Homo sapiens: one gene and its partners. The protein of the gene in region 1 purifies or fractionates together with the protein of each later gene. This does not show direct contact. Each region holds a gene or a part of one and is shown in the gene's direction. Other genes may lie near its edges. The genes, in order: ZNF543, NKTR and FRMD6.

Region 1 (4,140 bases):
ATATACATATATACATATACATACATATATATACATATATATACATATACATACATATATATACATATATATACATATACATACATATATATACATATACATACATATATATACATATATATACATATACATACATATATACACATATATATACATATACATACATATATACATATATATACATATACATACATATATACATATATATACATATACATACATATATACATATACATACATATATATACATATATACATATACATACATATATATACATATATATATCGCATTTTCTTTATCCAATCATCTGTCGATGGACACTTAGGTTGATTCTATGACTTTGCTACTGTGAATAGTGCTACAGTAAGCATGTAAGTACAGGCATCTTTTTGATATAGTGGTTTATTTTCCTTTAAGTAAATACCCAATAGTGGAATTGCCAGATCAAATGGCAGTTCTATTTTCAGTTCTTTGATAAATCTCCATACTGTTTTCCATAGAGGTTGTACTAATTTACATTCCCACCAATAGCATATAAGCGTTCCCTTTTCCTTGCATCCATACCAACATCTGTTGGTTTTTTACTTTTTAATAATAGCCACTCTGACCAGTATAAGATGGCATCTCAGTGTGTTTATGTGTGTGTGTTTTCTCTCATCATATCTCATTATAACCTCAAATTCCTGGGCTCAAGCAATCCTCTTGCTTCAGCCTCCCAGTGTCTAGGACTACAGGTGTACACCATCATGCCTTGCTCTTTTTTTTTTTTTTGGTAGATATAACATCTTACTATATTGCCCAGGGTGGTCTCAAACTCCTGACCTCAGCAATTATTTTGTGTTGGCATCCCAAAGCACTGAGATTACATATATGAGCTACCTCCCTAAAATAAGGGAAGTGAGCCAGAAGCTCTGGGCCCAGCCCATGATCTCAATCGGGGCGAATATCCCCGCCTCCTGACCTCAATTTTCCTAAGCTAGAAAGGACCTTTCGACCCTCCGACTTGTGCCCATAGTAAAGCGGCGGCCCTAAGACGACGCGGGGGTCCTTGTGCGCACTTAAATGGAGTCGGCTGCGCTTGGTGAGTTCCCACACCCGGTAGATGTGAGGGAAAAACTGCCTTACTCAGAAGGCACCACCCCTTGCGTCGGCCGCGGACTCTAGGCCAATGACGGGCCAGGACACGGGCGATTTCTGCGGGCCAGGGCGGCGGAGGTGGGACTTCCGCTTCGTCGCGTGACGTCATCTCCGTGAGCAGGATTGGCCCTGGAACAGTGTGGGGCCTGGACCGCTGGGTAGGCGCGTCCAGCGGCCTGAGCAGGGGAGGGTAATGAGGCTGTTACGCGCCTTCTCCGCATCTTGGCGGGAGCCTGACGCCCCGCTTCTTCCCTAACGGGGTGTTCCACCGGCGCCTGCCGAGGCCTAGGCCTCCGCAGCCGCCCTCCGTCTCCTCAGCCCCGACGCTGCGCCCGCTTTGTGCGCATTTTTCTCTGGGGAAACTGAGGCTCCGAGTGCGAAAGTCAGCCGAGGTCGCCCCGCCCAGGACAGAGAAGGGCTGGGGGTCGGCTGAGCCGCGGCATTCCCGGGCCCCGCTAGGGCTGCAGGGTCTCAGGATGGCAGCCTCGGCGCAGGTGAGTGGACGAGGTTTTGGCCTTGCTGCTGCTCTGCTACTTCTGGAGGCCTCGTGGGCAGGCAGAAGCCAAGACAGCCACAGGATGTTTCTTTGTCGCCGTCGTTTATTTAAGAGAAGTGGCCGTAGCTTGTCATTTCCTTTATCCGCAGTCCTGCAATAGTGTTGGCCTCCGACAGGTGCTCAGTCCTTGGTAGAAGGATGAATGATGCTTCCTTCATGGATCTCATCACACTTCCCTTAAATCCAACCTCCTCTGTTGCCTGCCAGCCCCTACCCCATCCACCTGGCCAACCACCCCTGACCTTGTCTCTCCATTTTTCCCTTGTCCTTTGCTCTTCAGAGCCACCAACCTGACCGTGCAGTCTTCTTCCTTTTTCCAGGCTTTCTCTTTGCACTTCCCTTTGCCTTGAACACTGCCCCTATAACTTCGCAGGGCCTCCCTCTCATATCTTTCTGGCCTCTGTCCAGATGTCACCTATTTGGAGGTGGCTTTCTTGGCAATTCCGGCTAAAGTGGCGCCTTACGCACTTGCCCATTTTTGGCAATGTGTGGCATTTTTGTATAGAGAATCTGACGATATTAAAGAAGCTTGCCGTTTGAGTTGGTCTAGGATGTTATGTGAACAAAGAGAAACGAAATAATTGCAAAGAGTGACAGCTGATCATAAAGAGTCCTTGCTGTGGGCTGATTGGCAGGCATTATTTAACCCTCAGCTCCTTTAATCCTGAACTCCTTAGAATTAGGTTCTCTTGTCCTCACTGTTTTACACAAGAGCAGCTGGAGGCTCACATAGGTTCAATTACCTGCCTTACATCACTGTAGCTCTTAAGTATCAGAAACTAACAACTGGTGTGTCTACCATCACAGCCTGTGTTTTTACCCTCTTCTTTGCCCGCAATGGTTAGGGAGGCCTGGGGGTGACACCTAAAGTAAACTTTGCAAGTTGAGCAGGCTTCCTTCTAGCAGGTGGTCTTGGACATGAGGAGTCATGGCATTTCATGCTGGTGGAACTGTGTGGACTAAAAAAAAATGGTTTATTGGTTGTTTAAGGAGTCCGCAGGGGACCCGTGTGGCTTCCACAGTGGTTTCCTGAGTGGTTTTCTCCTATACCAGCTGACACATGTCTTGGGACACAAGATTTTGTGGTCTTTTGCTAGATGTGCCTTCCTCCTTAGCCAGGACAGACATAGCCAGTCAGGGGCCCATGTTCTCATGGCTACAACCTGCTGTGTCCTCTGTGACTCTTGTTCCTTGCTCCTGAAGTATCCTGACCTCAGGGATACTTGTTGGTAGGACTCAAACAGGAAAAGGTAGTGATAGCTCGTTGTGGATTCTTCCTATGAGAATGGGCATCTGTGAGGCCCAGAAGTGTCCGAGGCAGCAGATGCAGGTCCAGGCCCTGCCACTTTTGAGGCAGGTGCCACCACCTCAGGTGACTCTTCTGTGAGGTAGGTGATTATGACTATGCTGCTCTGCCCAGGTCCATGAAAATATTTCAAGTGGCTAACCCCAGCACAGTGGCATGTGTCTGTATATCCAGCTTGGGAGGCTAAGGCAGGAGGATCATGAGTTCAAGCCCAACCTGGGCAAAATATTGAGACCCTGTCTCAAAAAAAAAAAAAAAAATCCTGAAAATATTTTCAGGGTGGCTCAAATGGATGTATTTCAATGTTTCCCATCCTCATTAACTGTGCATTAACTTTGCTAATGAAGGAGTGTCGGGTTGCATGATTAGAACATAGACCATAGGGCCCTGGGTTCAAATTCTGTCTCTCCTGATAAGAGATGTGACTTTGGGTAGACTAGTGGAGGTCCTGGACCTCAAGTCTCTGAGTGTGACATGGAGATGATGATGGTGAACTCAGGAGCTGTGGCCCTTTGCCCCAGTGTTTCCTTTACAGCTTTTCTTCAGATCTTTTGACTATTCTTGGTGAAGTGGAAAACCCTGTTGTGTTGACCTGGACATCAGGGCTCAGATAAATGAAATGAGATTTCCAAGGTCACATAGCAGGCTTGTGTTGATTTCAGGAATTTGGTTTTAAACCTCAGGAGTCTGACTCCTGAGCTGGGGACTTTTAGTCACTTTACCATGGCATGTAAAGCCATTAGCATGAGGCAGGCTCACAGGGAGGATCGGTAAGACTCAGGTGCTGTTCTTGTTGTTGTTGCTGGTGTTGTTTTTGTTATTATTCTTTCCCATTCCTCTGATGTCTCAGAGCACTTACTGTCTTGCCTCTCAGTCCCCTTAGGATTGTCCTAACCTTATTTCTGTGTGAAGTGGCTTTCTGCATAGGAGGCTTCTCTCTCTTCACTGCTGTAATTTTTTTTTTTTTTTTTGAGACGAGTCTCGCTCTGTCACCCAGGCTGGAGTACAGTGGCACGATCTCGGCTCACTGCAAGCTCCGCCTCCCGGGTTCACGCCATTCTCCTGCCTCAGCCTCCCGAGTAGCTGGGAATACAGGCGCCCGCCACCGCGCCCGGCTAATTTTTTTGTATTTTTAGCAGA
Region 2 (3,652 bases), on another chromosome or scaffold:
ATGTAGCTGTAGTTCATTTTCTTCAGAATATTTCGTTATATATCTCTACCTTAATGTTTTTTTAACCCATTCTACCATTAGTGGAGATTTGGTTTATTTTCTTCTCAGTGTTATTGGTGTTATAAATCAGGCTTCTATGAACATACTTGTGCCAATCTTTTCTTGTTTTTCTTTATTTTCTTCTGTTTGATTTTAACCATGGTTGTTTTGAGAGTTCCTCATTAGCTGACACTGTCATATCCACTGTGAGGAGTTTGTGAGAGGCCTTTCTTCTTGTTGTGTTTTCCCCTTTCTGCCCTACCAGTAATTAATTTTAATATCATGATGAGTCAACATAATTATATATTTTTTCAATTGCTTTAATTGTAGATCAAGAAGCTACTCTAGAAGTCGGAGCAGAGGATGGTACAGCAGAGGCCGAACCAGAAGCCGGAGCAGTTCCTACCGGAGTTACAAAAGTCACAGGTGAGCTTGTGATCTCACCCTGTGATGTGGTCTCCATCATGTCCACTTTTTAAGGCTACATAGGCAGAGGGGGTAGTTGTTGAGAAGAATCATGTCATTACTGAATATACTACTGGCCTATTTTCTCATGTAGTTTTTTCTATGTAAGAGCTGTGGAATTCTTGACTATTCCTCTGTTGGGATCTTATCAGAGTGAGGCAAGAGGAGCAGTAGAAATATTTAAGAAGCCTTGACCCCTACCTCCACCTCCCCCACATGCATCTTCCTTAACCTAAGTTTTACATCTGCATTCACCTCTTGACATGGGTTAGAGATTGGGATAGGAAGATTGTAGAGAGGGGACCAAGAGGAAGAAGTATATATATGGTGGGAAGGGTGGCCCCAGATTTCTAGTTCTCCTAGCTTCTTTCCCTCTTTTGCATCTGAGGTATTTTCTACTGCTGTCACTTCACTTTACTTACAAAGGTCCTACCTGTACAGACCTTTCCCCTAACTCCACCCAGTTTAGAGCCTCCCTAGTGACTATATGCATCTCAGAGAAGAACTGCATAAAACTTGATCTTATGAAATCCAATAGGCTTTTTAAAAAATCCAATATACTTTTGATATGAAAACAAAACAAATGTAGCTGTGGGATTTCACTGTATTTTCACCTTGATGGGCAAATAAATGTCTAGATATTTGGTATAGCCTGTCCTGCCCTGATCTATAAGATGATGGTCCTTCATGTGATTAATATTAGGACGTCCAGCAGGAGCAGATCCAGGAGCAGCTCATATGATCCCCACAGTCGATCCAGGTATGAACAGGGATTGGGAAACCACCAGTGGGGCAGAACTGAAAGATCTTGTTTTGTAAACTGTTTGTTCAAAGTGGTATTTTATTGAGTAACTAAATGCATATATTTGTCTCCTGAAACCATACCTTTTCTAAATGAGGTCTGTTCGACAAGTTTTATCTGTTGGCCCATTGTACTCCAGTGTCAAAAATGACAATATCAAATTGTAATGGCAGGTGTTTATTGAATATAATTGCCTACAGAGATCCACCAGGTTCAAACTAACTCGTTAACTTTGTGATATTTTTCAATGCAGAAAAGAAATTAACATTTTTCTCTTTAATTATGGTAAGTCTCATTTGGGGCAATTGTTAAATGTTTCCAGTACTTGTTTTGGAAATATATCCTCATGCTGTCACCTAGTGCCCATGTTCTAAGCTAGAACACTCCTGAGATCCTAAAAAGAAATAGGAACATATGAGTATCTGAGTGGGAAAATTTAGTGTTTGTTGTTGCCGTTAAAGCAGGTCCTACACCTACGATAGCTACTATAGCAGGAGTCGGAGTCGAAGTAGAAGCCAGAGAAGTGACAGTTACCACCGAGGCAGAAGTTATAATCGGCGGTCCAGGTGGGTCTCTCTCCTTTATCGTCCTTTATCGCACTGTAGGCCACGGTGGGCACTTGATGTGGGAGGGTGATGGGCTGCTAGTGGAAGAGAAAGTGGTATAATCTTCCAAGGACAGAAATACTTCTTCCTTTAAATCTGAACAACCCACAAGCAGCCACTAAAAGTGGCTTTTATATTAAGAGTTGCCAGGTAATATTTGTTGGTTATTATTAATGTTTGAATCTAAAATGGGTTTCTAAATATTCACATATCTTGGACAGACCTTTCTTTTGGAAAGAAAGAAGGCCACCCAAACCATGGCCACTTGCTTAAATAGAACCACTTGCTAGCAGTAGCCAGTTTCTCATTTTTTTTAAATAAAAAAATACATAATATAATTTGCTTCAGCAGCAGGATTGAGGTTTATATGTTGTCAATTATTTAGTAAAATACATTTTTTATGTATTATATGTATTATGTTTAACATATTTTGGCTTCTGCAAAAGTCTTTATGTTAACTTTTGTACTGTCCTTTTCTGGTGGCTTCTGGTCTTGCCTTCCCCTGTCCATTGCAACTGCAATGATGCTTGTAAATATCAGTCTGATCTGGATACTCCCTTGCTTGAAACTCTTCAAGGACTCCCTGCTGCTTTCATGATCAGGTCCAGCCTCCTCAGCACCAACTCCAGCTCACACTCTTTCTGGCTTCCCTCCTTTAAAGTGTTGGGACTTTTCCTTCTGCCTGGAGACACACGTGTCCTCTTCACCATCTCCCCTTTTGCCACTTGAAATGGCCAGTTCCCATCTACCCTGCAGATCTCCACTGTCCCTGGGCAGCCCTCCCTGATGCCTAATCCTAGGATACAGTCCCTCCCATGTGCCTCTAAGACAGCCCTTTGCTCCTACTGTGGCTCCCCTTGCTCCTAAATTACTTGTCTTGCTGACTATTCTATTCTGTCCTTGAACCCCAGAGAACTATACTTGGTTTTGTGTCTTTGTGTGTGTGTGTGTGTGTTCCCAGCATCTTGCAAAATGCCTGGCTCACAGTGAATGTTTTTCAAAATAACTGAATGGGACCCATGACCAGGTCCTCTTGACTCAATATCCCAGTGGTCCTGTTCATGCCCAGGGCCACCCCCACCCCTCATTGGACCCCATTTTGGTTTCCATTCCTTGAGTGAAACTATTTGTGCACCTTTTCCCCATTACTTTTCTCAGGTAATCTATTCAAATATTGATACTCATTTTGGGTAATATGGGGAAACTATTCTGCTCATTGGTTTTTTGTTTTTGTGGTCCCAGCATTTGCATGAATGAATTTCACACAAATTTCCTAAGATGTGATGTTTCTTTATTTTATCTTAATCTTGACATTACTACAACTTGTCATTTAAAACAGCTTCAAAAAGTCCATAGTGTGAGTCGGGCACGGTGGCTCACGCCTGTAATCCCAGCACTTTGGGAGGCTGAGGCAGGTGGATCGTCTGAGGTCAGGAGTTGAAGACCAGCCTGGCCAACATAGTGAAACCCCGTCTCTACTAAATAAAAAAAATTAGCTGGGCGTGGTGGCGGGCACCTGTAATTGCAGCTACTAGGGAGGCTGAGGCAGGAGAATCACTTGAACCCGGGAGGTGGAGGTTGCAGTGAGTTGAGAGCATGCCGTTGCACTCCAACCTGGGCAAAAAGAGTGAAACTCCATCTCAAAAAGAAAAAGAAAAGTCCATGGTGTTGCCATAGTCAGTACCCTACCTCTGTGTTATGCTGCATCAATAGTGCATCAGTTATATGAGTGGCTTGAAAA
Region 3 (3,652 bases), on another chromosome or scaffold:
AGGAGATCTCTTGAGGTCCCTCTTGATTCACTCTTGTTGATCCATAAATGATCTAGGATGGACCCTAATTTCAAAGGACTGCTTTGTCAATATTTTTGGAATAATTCATCCTTAAGAAAATGTTTCAAAAATTCAGTTTTTGGACTTCTCCTGCCTTTATGCTTCTCCCTCTTTTCTCCCTTTTTGTGTCTTCCTTCCACCCCCATCCAGTTATCGTTTCTTAAAGATCCCTGGAAACATCCAATCTTTGTCTACTGAGAGCAGCAGTGAAATTCTGACGCTAAAATCTGTGGCAGTCTCCAGGAAGTACTTATTGTAAAACATAAGATTATGATTTCACTGAGAGATCTAACAGATAAAACAAAGTGCTTGCAAAGGAAAACTATTCATGTATACATTTTATTTTATGTTTCCCTAAAGAATAAAGGACAGTTTTATTACTTAAGAAAAGACTCAGAGCTTCAGCTTAAGCTCATTAAAAAGGTGAAGAGAAGTTAAAATTAGAGAATTTTATAAATATGTGGTATTTATATATCCTACCCGAATAAGATACTGCTTATCACAGCAAAAATTTAGCATATGTAATGTTAACAAGTAAAAAATATGCTGACCATAGGGCCACAGCTCTGACAAGTTGCTCATGAAATTACTACAGAATAGCGTAATCCGTATTGAAGACAGCATAGAAGAGGGATAGTAAAATATAATGATAGGAATGAGGTCTTCGAGATCAGTTCCCTGGGGCCCAAATCCAGACTCCAGTATTCTCCCATGTGTAACCTTGGGGAAGTTACTTAACTCTCTACACCTCTTTTTCCTCATCAGTAAAGTGGGAGATAGTTATAATAGCTATCCCACAGGATTGTTCTTATTTTTAAGTGAAATGGTACGTGTAAAACAAATGGCATGGTCTTTGATATATAATAAACGTCTTACGTGATGTTAGCTATTGCTGCTTAAGACAAAAAGAAGTGATGTATAAAAGGACTTATAGTTTTATTGGAGGTTCCCAAGCCTTCATTTATAAGCATTTCATGAGATTTAACTTTGTTTTTTGATGGCATTAAGCAGGCAACAAAACCTAGTATTTCTCAGTTACAGATACTGGCAAGTCTGTGTTGCTGCAGTAGGAGCAGCTGGCCTGTTGCACTGATTACTAATTGATCGAGTTATTTTTCTTAATTCTCTTCTAATTTCCAGCCGTCTCAGTCCTTCAGCTTCTGTCTGCTAGATAACTGTTTCTTTCCATATGTCAAAAAAGCCAGCCTGCAGATTTTTAAAATTCTCCTTACGGTGACTGATGTTGTGCAAAGTTCTTTTAAAGAGTACCACTGACTGGCCCATGTCTTTTGCTCATGTTCCCTGTATGGCTTCATGTGAGTACTTCTGAAGAAAGCCACTATTATTGATATAAAGCAGTTCTTTATTCCCAACCCCTAACCATTGGCACAGTTTATATAATGTGGGTCAGAACCATTTGTGATTTTCTGTTATGAGGGCCAGAGTTTGAGATTTTAAACCATTCATTCAAAGAAACTTAAGAAAGACACAGTTAAACACCTTAGAAAGATACATTTTCATCTAACTAGCCTAATTACGAGCTCAGCTAAAAAAGGTACAGGATCCTCTAGAAGAATCGTGCTGTATCATTCTGATCTGTTTGTTAAAGGGCGGGGGACCTAGTCCAGATAACCCAGTTCCCCGTTTTGATTGTGTGTGTAAAATCTTGAGCTTAGTAAACTTAGCACTTTAAAAATGTTCACTAAGTCCATCAAAAGCCAGGTTTTATGTCTTTATGAAGTATTCAGGACTGTGCTGAATACTTTGTGCAATTTCTGTCAATGTGTTTCATGTCTAGTTGGGGGAACAAAATACATGTGTTTGAAAAGATATTAGATGTTTCCAGATGAGTGTGAAGTTGAGCTTTCGTTTTAGGGTCCAAAATCAAGGATGATCACATAGGATGTTCCCAGCCTTCCTGGGGCCACTGGATTTATACTGGTTAGTGAAGTCAGGCTAAGATTTTTCTATCCTTCAAGCCCATAGAAAAGGGGCTTTTCTAGTAGCAACAGAATGTGCAAGATCTGGTAAAAATCTCAAATATTAAAAGACAACTATGAAATTAAAATTATTAAATGTTTAAATTCATGCATTCAATATAATGTATGCCTAGGATATGCCAGGCACTGGTCTAGGTCTGAGAGATGTCAGTGAATAAAATAAAGGAAAAAAAAAAAAAAAAAATTCTGCCTTCGTGGACCTTATATTCTATTAGGAGGCAATCAGCATAAGAAAATAAGTGTTGTAGTATTTTGGAAGGTAATAAGCCTGATGGGAAAAAGAAAAAGTAGAGCAGGCTAAGGGACAGTAGGAGTGCTGGGGGAGGGAGGCAGGGACTTTGCGATTTGGTGGAGTATAGTCAAGGTAGGCCTCACTGAGAAGAGGGCTTGAAGGAGGAAGAGAGCCACACAGAGCTAGCTGGGGGAAAAGTGTTGCAGCAGAGGGACTAGTGAAGGCATCAGGCGGAAGCATGCCTGATGTGTTCCAGGAGCAGGGAGAAGGCCACAGTGGTGGAGCACTGAGAGCAGGGAGAGAAGGAGTAGTAGATAAGGTTAGAGATGTTTGGAGAGCACATGTTTGGCTTGTGTGGACTGTATTCAGGACTTGACTGTGAGTGGAATGGGGAGCCAGGTTTTGTGCAGAGGAGTGAGAGGATTTGATTTGCATTTTAATAGAATCACTGGTTGCTGTAGGAATCTGGAATTTAGGGAAGAGGTCTAAGTTGGAGATACAAATTTGGAAGTTGCCAACAGAATTTGGGTGAGATCACTTGGGGAATATGTGTAGTCAGAGAAACAGGCTTATGGACCAAGCCTTGGGGCATATCAGTATTTACAGTTTGTAGAGAGAAGAAGAAATCACACACATAATCCAAGAAGTGTTTTAAGCCAAAGTAATTATGCACGTTTTTCCAACATAGTGAACCCAATTAAGTGTCTCCATTCCTTGAGTAACAATGTTATCACTAGAAGATATTGTGAACTCTATTGATCTACACAATGGAAGAATGAACTATGAGTTGTTTTTCTAATTGCGTTGATGGTCTTGGGCTAAACCTGGATGCTTCATCTTTTAGAGGTTGTGTTGATAAGGAGGAATCAGTAAAAGAAAATTAAAAAGGAGCAAGCAGAGGATAGGAAGAAAATTAGAAAAATGTCCTTGTAGTCAAAGAAAATATCTCCAGCAGAAGAGTGGATCAGTTAGCTCACATGTTGCTGAGAAGTCAAGCAGGGTGAAGACTGAGAGTTGCTCATTGGATTTAGCAACCTGGGGAGTCATTGGTGATGATGACAAGAGCTGTGTCACTGGAGAAGTGGAGATGAAAACCTTATTGGAGTGGGTTCAAAGAGAATAAAAAATTTATGAAAGATAACTATTACTTGTAATTCAGTTTTGTATATTACAAATATTCAATATTGATGTGGGTACATTTTAATATGCCTGGTAGGATGTGCAGTGGGACTTTGGAAATGGGAATGTTGGAGGCCGTGCATATCTTCAGCAGGCTTTGTCAGGGTTAGGGAGCCTTTGAGCTTTTCCCTAGTTATTATTGGTAGGGGTAGGGCTCTAGTATATAGATTGTAGTTTGTAT

The links.
Region 2: the proteins of ZNF543 (region 1) and NKTR purify together in Homo sapiens (affinity purification with mass spectrometry; one large-scale study listed by BioGRID and IntAct). This does not show direct contact.
Region 3: the proteins of ZNF543 (region 1) and FRMD6 purify together in Homo sapiens (affinity purification with mass spectrometry; one large-scale study listed by BioGRID and IntAct). This does not show direct contact.

What each region holds. Positions count from the first base shown.
Region 1 is NC_000019.10:57,319,240-57,323,379, forward strand, and holds the start of ZNF543 (zinc finger protein 543), read left to right. Parts: upstream 1-1,232; 5' UTR 1,233-1,614; coding exon 1,615-1,632; intron 1,633-4,140. UniProt on the Homo sapiens protein: May be involved in transcriptional regulation.
Region 2 is NC_000003.12:42,642,132-42,645,783, forward strand, and holds part of NKTR (NK-tumor recognition protein), read left to right. Parts: intron 1-369; coding exon 370-465; intron 466-1,207; coding exon 1,208-1,264; intron 1,265-1,767; coding exon of another isoform or gene 1,768-1,770; coding exon 1,771-1,872; intron 1,873-3,652. UniProt on the Homo sapiens protein: PPIase that catalyzes the cis-trans isomerization of proline imidic peptide bonds in oligopeptides and may therefore assist protein folding. Component of a putative tumor-recognition complex involved in the function of NK cells.
Region 3 is NC_000014.9:51,658,388-51,662,039, forward strand, and holds part of FRMD6 (FERM domain-containing protein 6), read left to right. Parts: intron 1-3,652.